Regions from separate parts of the Homo sapiens genome. Here region 1 is linked to region 2. The links come from fine-mapping of genetic effects on gene expression. A gene starts in region 2. The other region holds a variant in brackets. All regions are shown on one strand. Distances are between the middles of the regions.

Region 1 (2,961 bases), 26 kb before region 2:
ATTCAACCTACTGAGGTGAACCTCACACTCAGACCTCTTCAGGTGCCATCTCCCCTTTTAGATGACAAGCCCTCTGAGGGTAGGAGCTTGAATGGCACCAGGCAAATAGGTGCTGAGAAAGAAATCCATTTCATGCAAACAAAATACAATAAACGTAATATTAACACAAAACCTTCTGTGTTAAAGATACAGCAACCTCTTTTATTTTTCCTCTCAAAACAGAGGTGCAACCTCGCCAGGCAATCACCCAATCCCTGCTTCCAAAGATACGCCTGCCCAGTCCTCCAACTCACCATGTAGACATGAAAGTTTCCTCTGGCCATGTGATATCAGCATTTCCAGAATACAGGCAGCCATTGATTCCCATAGAGAACCTCTTGGGTGACTTGGACATCCTAGATTAGAACTCAAGGTTTCTTCACTTCAAGATACCTCTCAGTCTTAGTCACCACTTCAAAATAGGTGTTCTCAATGTACGCACCTTCAACCTCGGCTAGATTGGCTTGACCTAGGCATGGGCAGACTCATGGAACTTGTCCTGTATCATCTGAAAAGCTGTTGAACGTTTGCTCCCAAGCACTACGCTGCATGGTCCTTGAGAAGTGATGTGCTAGAGAGCCAGCAATCTCCACAGCATAAATATTCCCATCATAACCTATTTCAAGCTACCAACAGTTTAACAACTGGCTTGCAAAATTCCTAAAAAACTTAATACAGGTTGAGTATCCCTTATCCAATATGCTTGGGACCAGAAATGTTTCAGATTTCATATTTTTTTCAGATTTTAGAATATTTGCCGAATACATACAAGTTGAACGTCCCTAGTCTGAAAATCCAAAATGCTCCAATAAGCATTTCTTTGGAGCATCATGTTGGCACTCAAAGTTACAGATTTTGGAGTTGAAATAGCAACCACTCTTTTGTATTTTCAGATTAGGGGTACTCAGCCTGTAATCAGCTCTTGCTATGTAAGCTGGTTCCAGCACACCACGGAACCTCTGCAGGTTCTTGCGGGGGTACAGCTCCGACATGACTGGTTGCACGATGCTGAAAACCACTGTTAAATCAAGTTTAGCCTAAAGCTGCCTCCTTACATATTTTAAGTTTGGCCTAAAGGTTTCTCTGTACATCATGAACTATAACGTAAATGGAATAGTATACGGACTCTAGTCTACTCTTGTGCCAGTCACTGAGTTTGGCCAATCGAAGATGGCCAATGATTCAAACTATTCAAATAAGGCAAACACCGAGCTGTAACCAATCCGGCTATTTCTGTACCTCACTTCTGTTTCCTGTACAT[G/T]ACTTTCCTTTTGCTGTCCATAAATCTTCCACCACGTGGCTGCGCTGGAGTCTCTGAGTCCACTCTGGCTCAGGAGACTGCCTGATTCATGAATCATTCTGTGCTCAATTAAACTCTTTTAAATTTAATTCAGCTTTTAATACCACAAACCCCCATCTTTTTCACATGACAATTCCCACCTTTTATGTAGATATGCACACACCAAAAGGTAGCCAAAGGGTACAAAGAAGTTTATTGACTATGATGCAGTAAAGATACCAAGAGTTACAATATTTGTGCATATGGCCCAACAGTGCCTACCCTCCTACAAAACAAAAACAAAAACAAAAAAAGGCAATGAGGTGCAGCAGTTAACAGCCCAACACTGGAGTCAAAGGAATGGAGCTGCCTCTTCTGGCAGCAAAGTTTCAAGTTGTGCAATTAAATAATAGTCTTGGTCCACTCCTTGTGGGTCTTCTTACAGTTTCCCTTTAGAACCATAACTGAGTGACTTAGTAGAACATTCATATTCAGGATGTGGCCTCCAGAAGTGTCGTTTTGTTTTGTTTTGAACAAAGACGTGCTACCTTCTCTCTTGAAGCACCAGTGCTGGGTTCAGGAGCTACAGAGGACTAAGATGTTCCCCAAGTAGCCTGAAGTAACAGGTCACATGGAAAACACAAAGCAATTGGTGAGTCCACATTTTGTAATAGAATTAAGAGCGTAATGCATAAAACTTAAAGTCATGTAACCACATGTAAAAACTTCAGCAGCTAAAGAAAAATTCTGGAAGGCTTTTAACCCCTTCTGAACTAAGTTCCCTTTCTAAACGAGGCTGGTTTCCATGGCTGTGACAAGAGCTCATGAGGTAGCAAAAAGAGAGAGAGAATAGCACCTTAGAAGTTACTCAAACAAGAGGTGAAACAAATAAGTAAACAAAAAAAGACCACTTTATCTTCCTTTCATCCTTAAAGAAGGCAGGTGTCTGTACACTGCTTTGTGATCCTTCGAAGAATAAAAAGCTGTAACCCAAATCTCAGTATAAGGGATGAAGAAGGAAAATGATAGCAGCTGATGACTGGGATGCGACCACAAACCCATATAGTAAACTAAGTTATCAACGTACTCCCTTACCACGAAGGACTTCATTCAGTCATTTAAAAAGCAAGGGACTAGTTCAAATCATGATTAAGGCTATAAAAGAACACGACTGAGTATTCACAGAGCACCAATTACCTCAAGTTTAGACTAGGTGTCAATCTACAAACATACTACCCTGCATTAATCTTCACAACACACCTGCGAGGACATTACAAGAAGGCCCAGCCAAAATTAGTTCCTCATTTAATGGGATATGGCTTTCAGTGGGTTCCTGTAACACCATCTCTTTCTTGGAGAAATGAGGACCTGCAAAATAGTCCCCCTCACAATGAGATCTCTATCTTCAAATCTCTGAGAGCCCAAGTTATTTACTCTCATTGCTCAAGTTGCTTTCCTCTCTCTGTTGAGGTGTCAGAAATGGTCACGTTAGATTGGCCTCAGACAACCACAAAAGTTAACAAGCAGTCCCAAAGTACCGTGAGGTTTAACCACTGGAAATGTAAACTGCCGGTCCTGTCTTTGCCCTTCTACTTCCTCGCGTGACCAGAGTCAAATCACAATGTCCTTCAACTAACCAGATT
Region 2 (2,500 bases):
AGCTTAAAAACTGGAGACTTATGATGACACAGGCAGCTGGGAGGGATCGGGGGTGTGCTGGCAACATGAATATTAGTCACCAGTTAAAAACTTTCCAGCCTTAACTGCTAAGATTTAGGACATCTGAAGTCTTTATATTAAACTATTTATATTTATATAATATTAAATATCTCTTTCAGAAATCCCCATTACCCTCAAGGAAATTTTATAAATTTAGCAATTCACTCTAATACTAGATATACTAATATTTTATTTCCCAGGAAGACACACATACACAAAATCCAGGAAATAATTGTACCTTAAGATGAAGGTAATTAGGCTGGATTGAAATTTATGCAATTTGAAAATTATATGAAAGCAAAACTCACCTAATTTTAAGATGTGAATGTCAGTGTGAATACCCTACTTCTGATATTACTTAATAAATTTTAACAGAATTTATATGCTCTTTCTTGTATTAAAAAAAGTTATGAAAATGCTAAAGCAGTTACTTTTTCATCGATATGCTTCTCTATAACGAATCACATCACATCCCTTCTGTGACTAGCAAATATTTCATTTTATAGACTACAATAATCACCTACAAAAAATAAAATTACCAACTGTCATGATTTTGTTTCCCAAAACTACTGGGGCAAACTACTGAATGCTAGAACTGTTTTCTTTCTAATCAGGGTATACAGCGCCCAAACGACAGCGGTCAACCACTGATAATAACACCACAAAATAACACCGGGTGCCCCCAAAGCCAGAGCTCTTTGTGGTTCCATCAAGTATGCTATCACCAAACTACAATGACAGGTCACGCAAGGTGAAAAAGCTCCCAAAGCTCAGGAAAGGACTGACAAAATACCAACTATCCTCAACGGGGTGGTGATGACATCGTCCCAACGTCCCGCTCCCTCCCTCCTTCCTTCCCAGAGCTATGCGGGGGCTTTCTGGAGACCCCCCTACCCGGAACCGGAAAAGCGACCATCTTCCCTAACCCCCCGGCCGGAAGTGGAGCGTAGCCAGCCGGAGCACTCACCCTGGAAGAACAGGACGCCCAGCAGAGGGAAGAGAGCGCAGCCACGGCTTCCAGCTGCTCCTCTCTGCTGCATCCCGGCAGCTCTTCAGATGCTTGCACACCTTGTTTACAGCTCCCGGTAACGACACAGGTAACACCGGAAGTGACGTCAGAGCAGGAGGCCGAGAGACAACTTAAATGGCGATCCGAAGTTACCATAGGAACCTGGCTTCTTTCCAGAACCACACCTGGTTTCACTGACCAGAGATTTATTAACTTTCAGGCGGGAGCTAAATGCTCTCTTTTGCTTGAAAATGAAGTAGGCTACGGACTTGGAATAATTACAATTTTGTTTTTATGGAATTCTGCAGAACTAAATAATTTTGATGCTCTGACTGCATGTCAGACATCGTTTTTACGTCTCGAGATTTAGTTGAAGGTTCTCAGAATACACTACTGTAAATTTAGAGTTCAGAAACACCTGGGAGATCATACAGTATAGATAAATATATATTAGGTGCTTGTAGTGATATGTGCCACAAGCCTCATTGGTTGGTGTCCTTTTTAGTGTAAGTATTGCAGCCTCCAAAATTGGGTGTTTATTAAATTACTTTTGGCGGTGGCAATGATGATCAAATCATTACAGCCTGTATTAGAGGAAAAGAGGAACTGGGATTTCTGTGTCTTTGGTTGGAAAAGTAAGAAAGTTATGTTATCACAGTACTTGAAGTGAGATGGCGTCACATACTTCTGAAAAAGAGATGGTACAATAAGTACACTGCTTTAATAATCAGTAAGCCTCTTCCCTGGAAATTGCCACATGTCAATGAAAGCAGGAGGAGAATAAAAGTATGCTTTCGCTTTGGGGAAGAATTAATAAGTTTCCATTTTTCAATTTCCATTCCTTTACTAGACTTGAAAGCCAGTAGTTTTCCCTATTAAAAGTGTAATGCAAAGTACTAAATAGAATCTTTGATACTTTTCTTTGAAAGAGCCCTCAAACTAAGTAGTGTTGTTATGCCCAATTCCCAGCTATCCAAAACAGTGTGAAAATTCTGTGGAAATCCGTATACTTCTGTTTACCCATTAGAAACTAACTGTATCCATTATTGACTTGCAGGTTGTCTCTACTAAGAAAACTTTTTGGTAAAGATTAAATATATATCCATCTGTTTTTCCTGCAATGTAGAACTTCTAGATATGTATATACACAAATTATATAACTGATAATTCTTTATTACTAAAGGTTTATTTACATAGTGTTTAAAGCATAATAAAAAATAAATTACAATACAAAAGTGCTCTTTAGGAAGGAGACACTAAACAACAGGCCCATATTACCCCTTGACTATTTAGCCAAGACATAAGCTACAAATTTTGCCGGAAAAACTGTCCATACATTTTTAACTACTTCTTCATTATTCTTATGGACCATCATCCAGGACATCTGTTTGAAGAAATATCCAGTTATAATATTTTCAAAGGTTAGAATTG

The links. PIP is the estimated chance that this variant, and not a neighbour inherited with it, causes the effect.
Region 1: its variant is fine-mapped to the expression of MPZL3 in whole blood (TOPMed, PIP above 0.99).

Annotation. Positions count from the first base shown.
Region 1 is chr11:118,225,181-118,228,141 of GRCh38, forward strand. MPZL3 (myelin protein zero like 3) reads right to left here. Exons shown (of 6, transcript NM_198275.3): 6 at 1,510-2,961. Among named protein-coding and RNA genes, the nearest start is that of JAML, 1.6 kb to the left of the region's middle. The variant G/T (reference allele first, on the strand shown) is at 1,301.
Region 2 is chr11:118,251,195-118,253,694 of GRCh38, forward strand. MPZL3 (myelin protein zero like 3) reads right to left here and starts at 1,171. Exons shown (of 6, transcript NM_198275.3): 1 at 1,028-1,171. The coding sequence starts at 1,100. MPZL2 (myelin protein zero like 2) reads right to left here. Exons shown (of 6, transcript NM_005797.4): 6 at 2,222-2,500. RefSeq lists enhancers at 491-1,052, 654-703, 1,053-1,613.